Homo sapiens: one gene and its partner. Changing the gene in region 2 together with the main gene of any one other region gives a genetic interaction. Each region holds a gene or a part of one and is shown on either strand. Other genes may lie near its edges.

Region 1 (4,604 bases), on a different chromosome or scaffold from region 2:
TTCACCATTAGGCTAAACGGCCCCTCACACCGACTATTCCCTCTCAGCATGTCCTTCAAAGAACAGGATCCTCCCTGTCACCCCATTACTGCTTTCTTTCCTGAGAGCAAACTGGAAATAAACATGAGCTTCCTGTTCAATTATACAAGTCACAAAGCCATGAAGTGTCCGATTAGAGAGTCCTGTCACCAGAGACCTCACTGAATTTGTTTTGCAGGCAGGCTTGTTTCAGAAGTCCAAAGAGTTCAGAGTGACTCCTGGTGGCAAAGACAGGCAATTTTACCAGTTCTTCTTTCAGCTGCAACAGAACCTATCAGCTGAGTGAAAGGTGACGGTGGGCTTCCAGCTTCAACAGCACACAGGGCTTTGTATTTTGTTATTTCTCCCACTTGACCCCTCATAAGAGTTCTAGTAATCTGCCTTGCTTAGATATGTTTACTTCTTTCCATCTCCTTCACTTAGCAAGCATTTGGTGAGTGCATACTGTGGGCCAGGTGCTGCGGATACAGTCGAGAACGCAACAGACAACAATCCCTGCTCCAGAGGAGCTCACATCTTAGCAGGAAAGGCAGATGAGAAAAAAGGCAAACATGTACAAGAGTGCGTCAGATGGTGGTAAGGGTTATGGGAAAAAAATCAAGCAGGGGAGAGCTGTTACTTTTACATGGAGAGTCAGGGGAGAGTAGTCGCCAAGGAGGGGACAACTGGGCAGAGACCAAAAGGAGGTGAAGGAACTGAGCTCGTGAGTATCTGAGAGCAGCAAGCCAGGTGGAAGCGGCAGCCGGTGTGAAGGGCCCAAGGCTGGAGAGTGCCTGGCAGGTGACATGGGGAGAGGAGGCTGACATGGGTTCGGGGGAGAGGAGGGAGGCAGCGGGAGAGGAGAACAGAGTGACGGGGGCCAGACTGAGCCAGGCTTTTTCGGGTGCTGTCAGGATGTTGAGTGAGACAGGAGCCACAAGAGGGTTGTGAACAGAGGGATGACAGGCTGTGACTGAGATTTCAACAGGATCCCCCTGGCGGTTGTGAGAAGAACAGACTGTTGGGGCTGAAGAAGCCACTGCGGTAGATGATGGTGGTAGCAGTGGGGCTGGCGAGAAGTAGCTGGGGTCTGGAGAAAGCCTGAACACAGAATAGGACTTGCTGACAGATAGCATGCCCGGGGGAGGTGAGAGAAGGGTCCAGGGTGAGTCTAGGTTTGTGGCCTAATCACCCACAAAGACAGCATTGTGGTCAGCTGAGGTGGGAGCCTTGCAGGAGAGTAAGTTTTGAGGGGGGTCACACCAGTTTTGGAGATGGTCAGTTTCAGAGGCCTGTCAGACATCTACGGGTATGCTATGAATACATTTTAATAATTTAAAAATGCAAGCCAGGCATACGATCCTTACCGTGGGCTGCACACTCTTTGAATCATTTAACTCATTGAATCCTCAAACCACCGTTAAAGGGTGGGGATTATCATTTCCCCCATTTTCCACATGAGGCAATGGAGGTACAGAGAAGTAACCTGCCCCAAGTCACACAGCTGGAAGTTGGCAGAGCCGGAATTCAAAACCTAAGTGGTTTGGCTCTAGTGAGCAATCGCCTTACACCACCAGTTCTCCATGAAGAGAAACAGAGAAGGGTAAGATCCTAGAGAGTGACAGGAATGCTGTTTTTACACAGGGTGTACAAGGAGTTCTTCCCCAAGGAAGTGACACCTGGCCTGAAGGAGGGGAGGTAGCAAGCCAGGCTGCCCTCTGTGGGGGAGGGCCTTCAGGCGGAGCGAACGGCGTGTACAAAGGCTCTGAGGCAGCCACCCTGAACTATCTACCGTTCCCGAGACAGTTCCAACCTCTGAGGGTAAGCACGGGCTGCTCTCCCCGCAGGGAGAGCTCTTCCCTCACTTCATGGACTCAATTACACAATCATCGCATTCCAGGAAGAATTCATTCTTCCTCTGCGTGATCAAAGGTGCCAAATAACCTGCCTGCCCTTGCAAATCTGTTCTTCTTTCTGAGTCTTCAGCCTTATGTTCCTCTGCCCCTGTTCTGGCTATTCTGGCTCAAGGTTACCCTGAGCAAGTTACTCAGCCTCTCTTTGCTTGTTTCCTCATCTGTAAAATGGGGATATTTTACTCTCAAAGTCAAATATTCTCAAAAGTACACCTACCCTCCAAGGCTTCTGTGAGGATTAACTGTGTCAATTCTGTAAAATACTTCTGTAAAAGACTTGAGGGGTTGACTTTTTTTTTTGTTTTTACAAGTAGCATTGTTAGGAACTTCTTTTTTATACATGTGCCTTTGTATAGTATATTCCAAGCACCATAGTGTTTAACAATGAATATTTACTGAAATAACACTACCCAGGTGCCAGAAAATCAAATCACTCTTAGAAACATCTTTTATGCCTGTGCCTTTAGGAGAGTGTATTATGCACACCACAGTGGTTATTTTTTGGGTTTTTTTTCGGAGACGGGGATCTCACTATGTTGCACAGGCTGGCCTGGAACTCCTGGGCTCAAGTGATCCTCCCACCTCAGCCTCTGTGCCCAGCTATACACCACAGTTTTGTGAACACATTCTTTCAATGCAACAACACAGTCCTTATTCACATATACAACTAGCACTCTTAGAAACAGCTTTTATACCTGTGCCTCCATAGAGCATATTACATACCTCAGTTTTGTGAACATATCCTTTTGAAAAGGAGGAAAATCCTTATTCATATATAAACTGGCATTCTTAGAAATATCTTTGACACATGTATCTTTTTGTAGTGCATTCCAGGCACCACCGTGTGGTAAACATCCTTTGGGGGTTGGTATTTGAACAGAAAAGTGCCTCTGATGTGTGGCAGATACTCCACAGATATTAGCTATTAGCTAGTGTGTCATCCTTCTCCCCCTGCCCCTGCAATCCTATCCTATGTATCACCTGCACTATCTGGCTCCCATCACCTGTGTGACCTCACCTTCTACCCTTCCCCGCACTCTGCTCCAGCCACACTGGCCGCCTTGATGTTCCTTGAACATGGCAGGCACCATCCCACCTCAGGGCCTCTGAACTGGCACTTCCTTCTGCCTGGTATGCTCTTCCCGTAGACATTAAGGCTCTCTCCGTCTCTACCGTGAGGCCCTAATTCAAGAGTCACCTTCCCTATGCCTAAGATTTCAACCACCCCCAATACTCGATTCCTACCTGCCCTATTTCATTATTTCTTCTCAGCATTTGTCTATTATGCTAATTTTACTTATTTATTTTGTTCACATAGTCTGTCTCCCCAGCTTGGGTTTTTTTTTTTTTTTTTTTGAGACAGAGTCTCGCTCTGTCACCCATGCTGGAGTGCATGGTGCAATCTTGGCTCACTGCAACCTCCGCCTCCTGGGTTCAAGCAATTCTCCTGCCTCAGCCTCCCAAGTAACTGGGATTACAGGCGCACGCCGCCACACCCAGCTAATTTTTTTGTATTTTAGTAGAGATGGGGTTTCACCGTGATGCCCAGGCTGGTCTTGAACTCCTGAGCTCAGGCAATCCACCCACCTCAGCCTCCCAAAGTGCTAGGATTACTGGTGTTAGCCACCGTGCCCAGCCTCCCCAACTTTTAATAAATGTCAGCTCCACAAGCACAAATATTTCGCCCTGTTTCGTTCCTTGCCATATTCCAGCACCTAGAAGAGTGCCTGGTACTCACAAGGGGCTCAGTAAAGGTTGGTTGCAGGAACAGTCCCAACTAATTAGCTCTCATATCCCTTCTTCTTCCTCATGTGACCCCTACACTGGTGTCTCAAATTATCTTTTTCCCATTTATTCATGGGATAAATTCTTATTGAGCATCTGCTGTTTACCTGGTACATTTTCAGTTGCTGGAGACATAGCGGTGAATGAGCAGACAAAAACTGAGTCCTCATGGGACTCACATTCTAATGAGGAGAGACAGACAACAAACAAGTAACCCACACAGTGTGTCAGACAGTGATAAAGGGCAACGGGACAAATCAGGGACCTGGCTTGAGCCCTGCTGGGTGTGCAGCTTCAGATGGTCAGGGAGGGGTTGACTTTTTTTGTTTTTACAAGTAGCATTGTTAGGAACTTCTTTTTTATACATGTGCCTTTGTATAGTATATTCTAAGTACCATGGTGTGACAATCAACCTTTAATGAAATAACACTACCCAGGTACAACAAAATCAAATCACTCTTAGAAACATCTTTTACGCCTGTGCCTTTAAGAGAGTGTATTACACACACCACAGTGGTTGTTTTTTGGGTTTTTTTTTTTCAGAAAAAGGGATCTCGCTATATTGCCCAGGCTGGCCTGGAACTCCTGGGCTCAAGCTATCCTCCCACCTCAGCCTCCCGAGTAGCTGGGACTATAAGTGCACACCCCTGTGCCCAGCTACACACCACAGTTTTGTGAACACATTCTTTCAATGCAACAACACAGTCCTTATTCACATATACAACTAGCACTCTTAGAAACAGCTTTTATACCTATGCCTTTACAGAGCATATTACGTACCTCAGTCTTGTGAACACATCCTTTTGAAAAGGAGGAAAACCCTTACTCATATATAAACTGGCATTCTTAGAAACATCTTTCATACATGTATCTTTTTATACTGCATTC
Region 2 (5,261 bases):
CCTCCCAGATTCAGTTGATTCTTGTACCTCAGCATCCCCAGCAGCTGGAATTACAGGCATGCATCACCACACCTAACTAATGTTTTGTATTTTCAGTAGAGACAGGGTTTCACACCATGTTGGCCAACCTAGTCTCGAACTCCCGGCCTCAAGTGATCCGCGTACCTTGGTCTTGCAAAGTGCTGGGATTACAGGCTTGAGCCATCACACCTGGCCACGTTTGATTTTTTTGTTTTAATACAAAGAATACAGTTATTATAGAATCAGAGAGTGGCAATGGCAGGACTATGTGTATTGGCCTAAAAATATGCCCATAGTAAACTTATGTAACGTGTACCATCTTGAAAAAATAATCCCGGTTGTTAATGGAGTTGAAGGTAGGTAACTCTTTCCTTATTAATTTTTTGCAAAGATACGAAGTTTCAGGAAAAGCTGATGACAGAAGTATGCATGTTATAGTCTGAGTTTTTTTAAGTGTGGCATATGCCCTAGAAAAAGTTCTGGAAGAAGTAAATACTAATCTCTGAACATGGGCTTCTGATGGGGGCAGTGGAATTCCAGGATACTTGTGTTGTGTGATAAAGGGTTTTTGATTATTTGACTTAATGCATATAGTTTGCATTAAGGGCATATATATTGAAATGTGAAAGATGGACATTTTTGTTTGTGTATATTTTCTTTACCTCTAAATATTTATATATATACATTTTTGAGATGGGGTCTGTTTCGCCCAGCCTGGAGTGCAGTGGTGTGATCTCGGCTCACTGCATCCTCCATGCCTCCCAAGCTCAAGCAATCCTCCCACTTCAGCCCCCCAAGTAGCTGGGACCACAGGCACACGCCACCATGCCTGGCTAATTTTTTTTTATTTTTTAGTAGAAACAGGGTTTCTGTATGTTGCCCAGACTAGTCTCGAACTCCTGAGCTCAAGATATCCACCCACCTCGGCCTCCCAAAATGCTGAAATTACAGGTGTGACCCACTGCGCCCAGCCTTTAAATATTTATCTTAAAAAATAGTATCAAGATGTTCCTTTAAATAATTCATCAAGTTTCCTTAAAATGACAAGAGCTGCCTCATGGAGCAATAATAGATACATTCGTATCTGCATCATATGGGGCAAATGTGGGCAGTAGGATTGCGGTTTTATTTTTAAACCATTTTCATTTGATTAGTCTCAAATACTTAAAAATCAGAAGATTTTGCATTTAAAAAGTCTGAATTTCTGGCTGCTTTAAAAAAAAAAGGACATGTCTGGCAGACTTGACCCCCTTTCTCCTACAGTGACACCTGTCTATAGCTGCACTCATGGCTGACTCTAGAAGAGCTGTGTTTTCTCTCCACTTCAGTCCTCACCATTCTCTATTGTTTTGGGTACTTAAAACAGTTTTACTTGGTATTAGCTGCTTGGCACTTGCCATTTAGCTTGGAACACCTATCCATATTGTTGACTTGAAAAAAAAGTTACTCATATCTTAGGTGAAAACATTGTTTTGTAGATAGTGTGCGTGAATACAGATATGTGTGGGGAGGAAGAGGAAAGGTTTATCTCAAGGTCATTTGTTGGATCCTGATTCATTTTTCTATTGATTTTTAATTTTTATGTAATGAGCATGGATTATGCATATACTTCTTATAAAGCTTGCAGAGTTACAGATAAAAGTTTATATGAATAAATGTTGAGCATTTCCTCTCTCAGTTTTGCTCATTTACTAAAGGTTGAAATTTGTCTGAAGGGATGGACATCTCCTTAGAAGAGCAGCAGGTCTTCCTCTCCTATGCCTGAGGCTTGAATGTACAGCCCTTGATGGAGGGTATGGCCAGGGTGGAGCCAGGTCACTACAGACATCTGTCCTTTCCGAGGGTGCTGTAAAAATATTTTCTCTGTGCACTATGTTGAAAGTACTACACTAGAGCATGTGCAGATAATCCAGGAAAAAGACCTTAGAATTTATGTATTTATATTTTAGGTTTTTTTTGAGACGGAGTCTCGCTCTGTCGCCCAGGCTGGAGTGCAGTGGCACGATCTCAGCTTACTGCAAGCTCCACCTCCCGGGGTCATGCCCCGGGTTCACGCCATTCTCCTGCCTCAGCCTCCCGAGTAGCTGGGACTACAGGCGCCTGCCACCACGCCCGGCTATTTTTTTGTATTTTTAGTAGAGACGGGTTTCACCGTGCTATCTAGGATGGTCTCGATCTCCTGACCTCGTGATCCGCCCGCCTCGGCCTCCCAAAGTGCTGGGATTACAGGATATTTTATTTTTTTAAGAATTATTTCTGTTTTTGTATTTAAGAGGTACATGATATGTAGTGTGGTATAATATGCATATTATTTAAAATCAATGTTCACAGTTTATGTGCATAAAAACGTTGTGCTACATGATCAAATTCGGCCACCATTAGACATGATTCATAGCTATTATCCATGGAGATACTCTGTTGCATGCCAACCAGACTCAGACTTTGTTAAACAATAACATATTAAATGCTATGATGGCCTCAATTTTTTTTTTTTTTTTTGAGACAGAGTCTTGCTCCATCGCCCAGGCTGGAGTGCAGTCGTGTGATCTTGGCTCACTGCAACCTCCGCCTTCCAGGTTCATGCGATTCTCCTGCCTCAGCCTCCTGAGTAGCTGGGATTACAGGTGCCTGCCACCACGCCTGGCTAATTTTTTTGTATTTTTAGTAGAGACAGGGTTTCGCCATGTTGGCTAGGCTGGTTTTGAACTCCTGACCTCAAGTGATCCACCCACCTCAGCCTCCCAAAGTGCCAGGATTACAGGCGTGAGCCACTGTGCCTGGCCTATAATGGCTTCAATAGCTTATTTTTCTATCAACATTGAAAGCACCCGGGCTCATAAAGGAATACCAACAAATCCACTTGGAGGCATTTTTCTGTATTCCAGAAATAACATTTTCTTCAAGCTTCTGTCTAGTTCAGAGCTTTATTTTGTGATTCATACTCAATTTTCAAAGGTATTATTAAAAATATTTTGTGGGGTTTGTGTGTGCAGTGAGTTTTTGTTTGGTTAAGGGAAGATGGTGCAAAGATACTTATTTCTCTTTTTTACTCTAGATGGCCCTCTACCTGACCCAAGTATGATCCGTGGCAGTGTGCCAAACCAGATGATGCCTCGAATAACTCCACAATCTGGTAAATAGTGAAAAAAATTTTTTTATTTTAAAAGAATCCCCGGTGTACTGCAAGATAATACTTGCTACCTGAACACCCGCTTTATGCCAACAGCAAGTGTCATGATTACCTGCCCATAGAGGAAGAGGGGGTGAAGAGCAGGTTGGCTGGCAGATCACAGGGCAGGTGACATTAAATGATCAAGTATCCATTAAAAAACAACTGCAGGCTGGGCATGGTGGCTCACGCTTGTAATCCCAGCACTTTGGGAGGCCGAGGCTGGTGTACCACCTGAGGTCAAAGTACGAGACCAGCCTGGCCAATGTGGTGAAACCCTGTCTCTACTAAAAATACAAAAAAATTAGCCGGTTGTAGTGGCACGGGCCTGTAATCCCATTTACTCTGGAGGCTGAGGCTGGAGAATCACTTGAACCCAGGAGGCGGAGTTTGCAGTGAGGCGAGATCGCGCCACTGGACCCCAGCCTGAGTGACAGCAAGACTTCGTCTCAAAAAAAAAAAAAAAAGCAGATTGTAAAATTTGTAAAATTCAGTTTGGAGATCCTGTTAGTTGATAATGTCTGTTTACTGCTACTGTGAATGAGACAGATTTATTTATACTTAGAAGGTTGAAAGCCAGTTTATTAGTCCTGATAGAATCAGGGCCAGGTGCGGTGGCTCACGCCTGTAATCCCAGCACTTTGGGAGGCTGAGGCGGGCAGATCACAAGGTCAGGAGATAGAGACCATCCTGGCTAACACAGTGAAACCCCCGTCTCTACTAAAAATACAAAAAATTAGCTGGGTGTGGTGGCGGACGCCTGTAGTCCCAGCTACTCAGGAGGCTGAGGCAGGAGAATGGTGTGAACCCAGGTGGCAGAGCTTGCAGTGAGCGGAGATTGCGCCACTGCACTCCAGCCTGGGCGACAGAGCAAGACTCCGTCTCAAAAAAAAAAAAAGATACAGAATCAGACATAAGAATTCTATCTTTTATTATTCAATTTCACAAAGGCATTCAGATCTAACATTTTGCTCATATTCACAGGTTTGAATCAATTTGGCCAGATGAGCATGGCCCAGCCCCCTATTGTACCCCGGCAAACCCCTCCTCTTCAGCACCATGGACAGTTGGCTCAACCTGGAGCTCTCAACCCGGTTAGTTTGACGTCTTTGGTAATCTCTTTGGCCTTTACCTGGTATTTTGAAAATCCTGTTTGTTCCTACTTTATAAATTCTCACAGTCATTTAAACAGACCATAACTCCTAGTTCTTCTGTAATTCTTCTGTATTTAACTCTACTAGAAAGCTGACCAAAAAACGAAAACAGCCAGTCCCTTGTCCCTGGAGTGTCAGTGTTTAGTGGCCTGCATGCGTTTTCACGGTCACTTCTCTTCCCTGATGTCTGTCTTCCCTCCTCCAGGCAGAGAACTGTCTTGCAAGGTTGATGGTGCGTTTTTGCCTGGTTCTTGAACTCGGAGAAGAGAGACTAGGCTTCTCCTGCTCCTTATGCGAACTCTTAACCAGTCCATCTCTCTACCTTGACCCTAACCCTCCTGCTGCCCTTTAGAGTTAGCTGGTGCCTCTGATTCTTGACCCTTTTGGGGGTTCCTGAGCATTACTACTTCTCACTAATCTGCCATTTTCAACAGGGAGTTCTGTCCTTCATTTTAACCTATAAGACAGATGGTCTTAGCTTATGAAGTTTTTGGCCTTTGGTACTCGAGATTTCTTTCTTTAAGGCCTGAATTTGTGTAGGGTAATTTTGGAAATGACATGTAACAGTGCTAGAGCATTTGTGGACCATGAATGCTACCAGATTCTGCTACAACTTGTAAGATTTTCTTGTTTTTACATATTATGGGTCTTAGAATTTGTGTTATTACATCACTGACATGACCTCATGAAATTGTGATTAACTCTCCTCACTTAACAGAGCATGCAAAGAAAATTACCTGCTATCCTTGTGCTAGGCATATTTGTGTACCAAGAGAATGTGTGTTCCATCCTCTTACTATTTCTTGGAGTAGGCCTAGGTAAACTGTGAGGCTATTTCTCTTTATCTTGGCACAAGAGTCAGTTGTTCTACAACTTTCTTCCTTCTCCTCTTCAGCCCTCTTCACCTATACTCCTGT

Evidence for each region.
Region 1: of EP300 (region 2) and ELK1, changing one enhances a phenotype caused by changing the other (phenotypic enhancement), as found in Homo sapiens cells (one study listed by BioGRID).

What each region holds. Positions count from the first base shown.
Region 1 is NC_000023.11:47,643,893-47,648,496, forward strand, and holds part of ELK1 (ETS domain-containing protein Elk-1), read right to left. Parts: intron 1-4,604. UniProt on the Homo sapiens protein: Transcription factor that binds to purine-rich DNA sequences. Forms a ternary complex with SRF and the ETS and SRF motifs of the serum response element (SRE) on the promoter region of immediate early genes such as FOS and IER2.
Region 2 is NC_000022.11:41,143,663-41,148,923, forward strand, and holds part of EP300 (histone acetyltransferase p300), read left to right. Parts: intron 1-3,076; coding exon 3,077-3,154; intron 3,155-4,174; coding exon 4,175-4,284; intron 4,285-5,261. UniProt on the Homo sapiens protein: Functions as a histone acetyltransferase and regulates transcription via chromatin remodeling. Acetylates all four core histones in nucleosomes. Histone acetylation gives an epigenetic tag for transcriptional activation.